Linked DNA regions of Homo sapiens. The protein of the gene in region 2 interacts with the protein of the main gene of each other region in a pairwise test. Each region holds a gene or a part of one and is shown on either strand. Other genes may lie near its edges.

Region 1 (3,619 bases), on a different chromosome or scaffold from region 2:
CTAAGCAGTATGCTAAGTGTTTGATCAGCATTATCTCATTTGATCTTTGCTTCAGCCCTTAGTATTTTCATAAACCTCATTTTACATTTGAGAGTAGTAAATCACTAAAACTCTTCTCTGAAATTTTGTCATTTAGGACTTGCTGCTCCCTTTTGTTACGTGACCTGCCTTCTTCTTCTGGAAATACTTCTTTTCTGTAACTCACTCTTATACTCAATCTATAACTTTGGAAGATTGCTGTCATACCTAAAATAAATTTTAAATATATTTTCACCACTAACTTATATGATCCATGCTAAAATGGGCTATCTCACATAATTTTTCAGAAATAGGAGTTTTGGTATAATCTCACTTTGATATTATTTTAGTTCTAATATGGTACTGCTTTAAAAAAAAAACAAAACTTAGAGAAGGCAGGTATTATACATAATCACCTCAGAAGACTGAGGAAAACACAATGAGCTCAGGATCATTTTTCTGAAAAATGTTGATGTGCCAAAGATACTAACTTACCAGCACAACACTGTTTCTTAAGGTTCTTGGAAAACGGGGTAAGAATGAATGAATGCTAGAGTTAAGGAATTACAAAAACATAGAAAGTCTGGTGGTTAAGGTAAAGAATAAGAGTGGCAGCTTGAGGTGTGTGTTTGTTTAGTATTAACTGCATATGAGCTGAGAGAAGGAGCCTGTTGGGGAAGAGAGATTAAAGAGGCAGAGGGATCACTGAAAGAGCAAGGTTACAGAGGAAGCCTCTGTTTTACAAGGTAGCAAGTTCAGAGTAACAGGCCCAACCACCACCCAGGCTGACTTACTATGCCATGAAAATGGCCTAAGTTTGAGAATGTGGGTAATATATAATAGAAGTATCCCTTTTTAAAAATTCTAAATTTTAAAAATATTCAGAACCAGAGATTTTAAGGAATTAGATATATCCCCTATACAGGACTGTGTTCATTCATCTTTGAATTATTAAAATAGTGTTTTGCTTATAGATCAATGAGTGACTGTTAAACCACAAAGAATCCAGAATACAATAACATTTTCATTTATTTTTAAAAGACACTTATACTCACTACAGACTGAAAATATTCAGGAGAGATGCCTTCCAATTCAAGGATTTTATCCTCAAGTTTTTTAATTCTCTGATAAATGTCTCTTGGCACTGGACCACCTAAATACATTAAAAAAAAATCTGAGATACTATTGAATAATTCTTTCTTTTCACAATTTTTATTCTTAAAATACCATGCAAAGACACTTATGCAAAGGAATGGAAAATACTTAAGAAAATAAAAAACAAAAGTAAAACAGAATGAAGTCCTTAGGTCGTATTTTTGTATTATACACTATCGGACATATTGTACTACACTTCCTCTCTCCAAACCCCATTTATGCTTCCTATATTCTAGGAGTTTCATGTTAAATTCATTTTACAAGATATTGAATAGCTTCCATGTAGAACAATTTATATTTCTGATATGCTTTGATAGTTACATGGGAGGACAAAAATGCATAGTGACAAATGACGATAATTCAATGCAGTGGTTGCAATATGTCATATTATTTTCTTCAATTAATATTTCTCCCTACATGCCATATTTTTCCTTTGACCTAAAAGAATGTAAAAAAGGGGCTTTACCATAATTCTAAACTAACAAACTTTCTGAGGAGGGGAAGAGTAAATTATGGCCACTCAAATTTTAAATTTATGATTATATCAAGAATCCTTCTACTTCTCACCCCCTCCACACTGTGGCCTTTCTGGTCCAGACCACTTCCACCTCTCCCTGGATTACTGCAACTCCCAAACTGGTCTCCCTGTTTCTGCCATGCTTCCGTAGAGTGTATTTTCAACACAGGAGCCAGTGATCCTCTAAAAATATAAGTTAGATCACATCATTTCTCTGCTTCCAATACCTGATCATTTCACTGAGGTTAAATACCTTCCAATACCTGATCATTTCACTCAGATTAAATACCAAAGCCCTCACAATGGCCTACAAGGCCATACACAATGTGGATATTCTCCCTATGCCCACATGGTTCCAGCCACTTGATTACTTTTTTTCTGTTATTCAAAGAGGCCAAGCACCCTGTAAGCTTCAGCTGGTTCCCTCTACCGCCATAATCCCAAGTCAATTTCAAGTCTTGGCTCAAAAGTTACCTTATCAGTAACACCTTCTCTGACTATTCTGTTAAAAATACCAGTACTACCACTCCCCTACCCAGCACTCCCTTATCCTCCTTACCTTAATTTTCTCCATTCCATTACTACCACCCAACATTCAGTATATTTTCTTTCTGTATTATTTGTTTCCCCATTCTAATATAAGCTCCAAGAGGACAGAGTTTTATCTGTTTTGTTCATTAGGTAGGGCTGTGCAGCTTGTGCACTGCACAAACCTAGGAAGCATCAGTTCATAAGACTACAATGCATGGCAAAGAGCTGGTGCTTGATATTTACTGACTGAATGAATACATGATTAGCCAATCATTATGCAATTAAAGAATACGGGTAAATTTCTATATCAAAATTGTCAACTTGTTATGTAAAAATTCTAGAAATTTTGAGGATTTTAAGAAATCTTAGGACCTTGGTTGTTCTTGTTCTTAAATAAGTTAACTTGTTCATTTGACTTTGCTTTTGCTGCTCCCTTTACCTACAATGTCCTCTGCCTTACTTCTGTATCTTTCAAGAGCCAGTTCAAGCTTCACTGGGTAACGCAGGCACTGCCGAAACCTCTTCATTCGCATAAAGGCTCCTTGTGCCCCCACCATTCTTCAGTGCTCCTGAGTTTTTTGGGACAGACTCTCACTATACTGTCCAGGCTGGTCTCAAACTCCTGGACTCAAGCTCTGTTCCCCACTCAGCCTCCCAAGGAACTGGGATTATAGGCACACACCACTACACCCATCCTTTCATTACTCCTTTAAAACTCTACTTCACTATTAATCTTTCTCTCATTTGGATTATAAAGTCCTTGAAGCTGGGGACTATGATTATATCATCTCAGTATCCCTTGTGCCTAAAATAGTGCTTGGAGCATAGTAAACATTCAACAGATATTTTTCCAAAAACTTAACTGTTTCATACTATTATTAGAGACTTAACCAGTCAATCCTTTTATACAGTGGCATTTTAAACCCATCCACTTCTGAGGGAAGAGATTAATTCTTAATGCCAGTGTCTTATTACTCTCAAAGACTTACTCATTCTGTTTTCTTCTTCTACCTTCATCTGGCTAGCATAGCTTCAGATAGCTAGTATACTCCAGCTATACTGGATTCAGATATCTCCTGAACCATATTTTGTGTTTTTGTCCTTTTTTGCAAATGGTGTTTCTTCTTTTTGGAATGCTTTGCTCTGGAAAATTCCTACTAATCCTTCAAGGCCTCAAATGTCACTTCATTAGGATGCCATCATCCCTTGACCTACCCTGAGAGAGTCAAACACTAACTTTCTGTCCCTCCGTACATACATCTGCAAAGGTGAAATAAGCAACTGTCCATTCAATAAACATTTGAGCACTTGCTTTGTGCCAGGCACTGTAATAGGTACAAAGAAATGAATATGACAGACATAGTTGCACTCTCACGGACTATCTAGCAGGAGACAGAC
Region 2 (2,607 bases):
CCTTAGAATGTACTCTTAGTGGGTAGCAAACTAACTTAATAAATAGTGGCCTCTAGGACTAAGATTTAGTAGCAGGAGATAAGCGAGAGTACAGTCTGTAGACTCTCCCATCCACTGCAATGGCACATCAGTGTACCATCTAATTTGGTAGCCCCTGTGATAAGGGCACAGCCTTCTGGTCTTTCCGTACAATGATGAGTACTTTGAATTGCACTTTATTTTGCTGGAGATGGGAGTTCCTAGCATATTAGCAAATTGATGGCTGGCAGCTGGCCTAGATGGTAACTTCTCTCACATTTACGATTTTAGGATGCTTTTGTTAAAATTTTTTCCCTAAAGTCAGACAAACTATCAAATCTCAAACTTTCTATCAGTCAGTCAGTCTATCTTTCTGGAATTAGTTCAGGCAGTCTGGAAACTTCATGGATGCAGGATTCATTCATTCAGTCAACAAATATTTGTTGAACATCAATAGCAAGCCTTATTCTAGGAGCTGGAAATAGAGACAAAATATACAAACAAACCAAATGATGCCATTATAGCTTCATATACTATTTATTAAGTTATTAATATGAACAGATATGCAACATTACAGATGTCTTTCAAAGCCTGTAATAAAATATAGTCCACTATCCAGCCCAGGAGAAAGACAACAAACAGTATCATTCTTATAGTAAGTGTAGCATACGTACTCACAATAGTTCCCTTATTTGGACATCAAAGGGAACAATCAGTCAAGATTCTTTACCTCCATTAGAATTTAACTTTCTTGGATTATAGCTGTTTTAGAGTCAAAAGTCCAACTTAGATTATCCACAGAGATGTGTAGCATCACATGTTGGAGAGGAAGGAGCTACTGTCACCTCCGTGGCAGCCCTTTCTACTGTCTTGCAGTCCTTCTATATCGAAGCCCATCTTGCCTTTTAGGCCAGTAGTGGTCAAATTTGGGTATGGGGAGAAGGCAGGTGGGTCACAGGGAGGTTTTGATTAATTTACAAAGATTGTGTTTCAAAGCTCTAAAAACCCATTTGGTGGTGGCAGTGGCAGTGAAGAGTACACTATATTTCGCCAAGGGGGTCTTCTCATCTCTTGAGTCTTGGCTTTCTCATATCCTTTAAAATTGCTGCAGTTCTCAGTGGGAAAGTGGAGGTGGCAAACTCTAACAGCGATTGGTATGGGGCCATCTGCAGAATGAACTGGACTGGCTACTATGGCTTTTATAACCTGCTTTCCTTTCTTTAGTCTAGACAAGCTTATTTCTTCATCTTTCCACCTACGTCCTGCTAGTTCTAACATAAGATTTAAAAGGACTATGGAAGATAAAACTTCTCACTTTCTAGCTGAATGATGAAAAACAGCAAAAAAAAAAAAAAAAAAAAAAATTCCATTCTTCAATGAACTATACTCAATTTCCTCAGTTGAAAACAAACAAGCGCCAAATGAATTTTAAAGACAAGTGCTGGATAATGCTGATTAACTGGTAGAAGTAGTTCCTGAGTGAAACAGCGTATGTATCAGAATCTAAAATACAAGCAAAACCCGAAATGCTCTGTAATAGGGATTGTAATAGTGATTCTTCAACCCCTTAGTTTCACACTGAAAACTACAAATGTTTTTCAATATCAGGCTATTGATAATAGTCAATTAAATATGGAATCAGAAACCTCAGAAAGTCTTGCCAAGTTTGTGGCAGTTTCAATAGTCTAAAAAGGAAAAAGGAGAAACCAGAAGTTAAAGAGTAAGAGCATTGGAATTTTATTTAACTCTAGGTACCATGGATTTGACATCAGTAGGAAAGACTAATGAATAAGCAGCCATACAACTTTTTTGGTCACTGTGCTTCCCAAGCACCAAAAAATGGAGCTATTTTTCCAATTCAGTTTCATCTTTAATAAGCTAGACAGATCCTGCTGCATTCTTTGTTTCTAGTTTACCAGTACATCATTATGTAGTTTACTGCATGTGTGGAGCAAGTCATTATGTAGTACCAAGTTTACATCATCATAGGACTACAACATGCACATTCTACTTAATGTAGCTCAAGCAACAGGAATACAAGAGAACGGTTATGGGTGGAGACTTGCCTTTGACAAAGTCATGATCACACTAACTATAGGTTTAGAAATCTTATTAGGGAGGTACCTACAGCGGTTCTTCAATTGGTATTAGAACATCACATGCATGCACAAGTGGTATGGTAGAGAATGAAGCGGAAGAAGCCGCTGGATGGAGGACAGAGGGGAAATTAGAGATGGGATGATGCCGTGTATCGGGCAGTTCTCAGCTTTCCACAGTAAGTCTCTGCTCTGTGAGAGAGGCCTGCTGGGCAACACTTTTGTTCTCATGACTGCGAAGTTTGGATACGACATCTAGAAAAGCCAAATCCTGTACTTCCTTGTGTAGACATTCTGGAAGACAAAAAAATAACAGATATGATTCTGTTAGGTTGTTCTAAGTCTATCCAAAACATATACCAAAATGTTTATTTTGACAAGACTAAGCTTATAAAACTAGAAACAATTCTGGAAAAAGACATAGCAGTAGCCTAGCAATGTCTTTCTTAGAAATGTATTATAATTTAAAAAAATCATAAAAACTTTACTTTTT
Region 3 (3,619 bases), on a different chromosome or scaffold from region 2:
AGCAAAGTAAGATGATTATATCAATGGGAAAAGCTATCATTTTAATTTTTCTTCTTGGATCGAACATACAATTTTCAGTCTTTTTTTTTTTTTTTTTTTTTTTTTTGTGACAGAGTCTTGCTCTGTTGCCCAGGCTGGAGTGCAGTGGCACCATCTCAGCTCACTGCAGCCTCTGCCTCCTGGGTTCAAGCAATTCATCTGCCTCAGCCTCCTGGGTAGCTGGGACTACAGGTGCCCGCCACTACACCCTATTCCTATTTTTAGTGGAGACAGGGTTTCACCATGTTGGCCAGGCTGGTCTTGAACTCCTGACCTCAAGTCATCTACCCACCTCTGCCTCCCAAGGTGCTGGAATTACAGGTGTGAGCCACCGTGCATGGCCTACATTCTTCATACCAGATGTAGATTTTAAAGTAGGTGATTCAGCTCTGTTTACCATATATTGGAGAGTATTGCTTCCTCTGTTTCTTTAATTTTTACTTCCGTGTTTATAGTTTGAGCAAAAATCTCAATTCCTTTGCTACAGATCCCTGCCCAGTTTTGCCCTCTTGTTTTATCTTGGTATCTGAATTAGTACCCAAAAGATGGCAGTTTCTTGGTTGAGCAGAAGTCATAGCCTAGGGGAGAAAGAAGCTATCTTTGAGACTGGATGCCTATTCTAGGGAAGATCATTACCTAGATCTCAGCTTCTGTCTCCAGCAGTCAACTTTCTACATCCTACAAAATCCTTTCCTCAGCTATTATTTCTTCTGTGTTCCTTTCTTTTGTTTCCAACATACTGGATTTCTCAAAAGAATATGGCCTTTTCTACTGCATTCTCTAGTGTTTTAGAGCCTGGCTTCTGTGCTCACTACTTTCTTGAAAGTTGCTCTCTCAAAGACATTTAAAAATGTCTGGTTGCCACATTCAGTGGCATTTTATTGTTGCCGTGTTTCTGGCCACATTTAACACTGACAGCTTTTTATTGAGGCAATATGATAGTTCAGTTTAGTTCTAGAGTTTAATAGTCTTCTAGGGGAGCAACTCTCAAGTCTTTATTTCCAGGTATGTTCATACTTCCCAGATTACAGGCCTGCATTTCCAGCTGTCTGCTAGATACACCCTGTGTACCACTGTTACTTCAGCCCATAGGAATGTCAGCTTTCTGTTTCTGCTTTCCAAAGTTATACTATTGGCATTACTATTCTTATAGTCACCTGAGGTTAAAAACTTAGAGATCACTGACTCCTTGTTTTGTTTTTTAAATAATCTTTTAAATTTATTTTTATTTATATATTTATTATTATTATTATTATTATTATTGGGATAGTCTTGCTCTGTTGCCCGGGCTGGAGTGCAGTGGCGTGATCTTGGCTCACTGCAACTGCTGCCTCCCAGGTTCAAGCAATTCTCCAGCCTCAGCCTCCTGAGTAGCTGGGACTACAGGCACGCACCACCATGCCTGGCTAATTTGTACATTTTTAGTAGAGATGGAGTTTTACCATGTTGGTCAGGCTGGTCTCGAACTCCAGCCTGGCCAACATGGTAAAACCCCATCTGTACTAAAAGTACACAAATTAGCCAGGCATGGTTCTAACCTCAGGTGATCCCCCACCTTGGCCTCCCAAAGTGGTGGGATTACAGACATGAGCCACCACACCTGGCCTAATAATCAATCTCTTTTAGTTTTCCATTTTACTTGTATTCTCTTGTATATCCACTACCATACTCTTCTTGCCATCACCACCATTAGTTCTGCATTGTCATGTGCCTATACTGATTATCTTGCTTTCCCTGCTCTCCATACTCCTCTATGTGATTGATCTTGAAGCACAGTTCTCATGTTATTGTCTTATTATTATTTTTTATTTTCTTTTGCCTATTGAATAAAATCTAGGCTTTTAAGCCTGACATTCAAGGCCTGGTTGATGAAGAAATTGGCATGGATGGAAAGAAAGAATGGAAAAGAATTCAGGTTTGATGCTTGACTCTGCAGTGGTGGATGATGAAGCTGAGCTATAAGTCAATTCATTTTTGAACTTGGATATATTAACAGACTTTTGATACCAATTCTAGGTGTAAAGCACTGGATTATAATATTTGTGTCTTTGTAGCACTGTTCTTATATTAATTTTCCTTTCCCAAGTAATTGACATGGCCCTAATATTCTACAGGGGTGTAGGTGCTTCCTTTTAGGTCTTGTCATCATTTTACATTTATATATTTTGAATATTTTCCTCTGCTGCTTTTGTTCTGGTTATTTTCTGCTACCCACAAAGCTCCCTCTTCAGAGTAATTCTTGCCAGTCCCAACCAAAAAAAACACTGTAGGTTTAAATGCTAATTTGGTTTGAATAACTGTTAATGACTTCTAAATTTGCTTGATTGTTTATAGGAAGGACCATTACGACCTGTTCTTGAATACATTGATCTGGTCAGCAGTGATGATGAAGAGCCTAGCACCTCTTATACTGATGTAAGTACATTATATTTGATTTGTGTTTCTTCACTTGTGTCTTTTAAGAGGTATTCTCTAAAGAGAGTTACCAAATCAGGGAAGGCTGTGTTTAGAAATAGCCAGTTCTATTAGAATGGGCTAAAATAGGTAGTCCAAGGAGTCCTTTGCCCAGATCTCCTACTTCCAGTTTTTTTCCTCTACTTTGAATGAGATTATGAAAAAAATGATAATATGACTCTGGGAAATTCAGAGCCTTAGAGGTGATATCTGATAAAATGGAAATGGAATAAAAACTGCAAGCTTATTGATTCCTCTTTCCCTTCTCTTTTCCTTTACTCTCCTCAGGTGCCCTATACAACAGGATTCTTTTGTTCCAGAACCACATGACCACAGAAAATTTGTTTTCTCTTAGAAAAAAGGATATGTAGAGATCCTTTTAGGAATGGAAAGTGGGGGAAGGGTTTATAGGGGATATATTACTTCAGTCATCATCCCTTTAACCTTGTCTGTGCCCCACATATTTGGAGTTATTTATCTTACCTGTGATGTACTGGTTGTAGGTTTGACCCTTGGACCAATACTTCCCTTGCTCTGAGAATTGAACTAGTTGAGCCCTTTGTAACAGTCTTGCCTTTCATTTGTCCTTGCTTTAGCCCAAACTTCTGTTAATGAGCTGTTTTCATCTTGGATTAGAAAACTCTTAGTTATTGTTCAGAGTGGCCACAAACTTCTTGCTCTGTGATATAGGGGATTGAGACTTGGACTTGGAATCAGAATACCTGGGTTTGAGTCCCAGCTTTACTCTTTACAAATTCTGTGACTTTGGATAAATTAAGTAACCTTTTAGCCTCCGTTTTTTAATCAAATAATACCTACCTCACAGGGTTGTTGTGAGGATGAAATGAGGTAACAAATTATAACTTCTTATAACTACAAACCATAAAGTAGGACTATACAACTGGGAAGTTTTGTTATTCGTGGACAGTGAATGACAGAATTTTCAGAGGTGCCTAAAATGACTCTAATGGGGGAGTTTTAGATTTTTTTTCTTCTCAGTGGAACTTTCCTTAAGTTCTCTTTGCCATCATTAGCTTCTTGCATATCTTGAGTAGAACTTAACATATCTTGAATGGGATATTTTTTTCTTTTATTCTTATGAGTGGTCTCACACAGGACCAAACAG

The links. Proteins that work in one complex are often made in the same cells at the same time.
Region 1: the proteins of RAP1GDS1 (region 2) and MBIP interact in binary tests that used the Homo sapiens proteins (3 or more experiments, as listed by UniProt).
Region 3: the proteins of RAP1GDS1 (region 2) and ZNF451 interact in a two-hybrid assay, tested with the Homo sapiens proteins (one large-scale study listed by BioGRID and IntAct).

Annotation. Positions count from the first base shown.
Region 1 is NC_000014.9:36,307,019-36,310,637, forward strand, and holds part of MBIP (MAP3K12-binding inhibitory protein 1), read right to left. Parts: intron 1,172-3,619; coding exon 1,074-1,171; intron 1-1,073. UniProt on the Homo sapiens protein: Inhibits the MAP3K12 activity to induce the activation of the JNK/SAPK pathway. Component of the ATAC complex, a complex with histone acetyltransferase activity on histones H3 and H4.
Region 2 is NC_000004.12:98,441,791-98,444,397, reverse strand, and holds the end of RAP1GDS1 (rap1 GTPase-GDP dissociation stimulator 1), read right to left. Parts: intron 2,409-2,607; coding exon 2,281-2,408; 3' UTR 540-2,280; downstream 1-539. UniProt on the Homo sapiens protein: Acts as a GEF (guanine nucleotide exchange factor) for the Rho family of small GTP-binding proteins (G proteins) that stimulates the dissociation of GDP to enable subsequent binding of GTP.
Region 3 is NC_000006.12:57,096,688-57,100,306, forward strand, and holds part of ZNF451 (E3 SUMO-protein ligase ZNF451), read left to right. Parts: intron 1-2,373; coding exon 2,374-2,454; intron 2,455-3,619. UniProt on the Homo sapiens protein: E3 SUMO-protein ligase; has a preference for SUMO2 and SUMO3 and facilitates UBE2I/UBC9-mediated sumoylation of target proteins. Plays a role in protein SUMO2 modification in response to stress caused by DNA damage and by proteasome inhibitors (in vitro).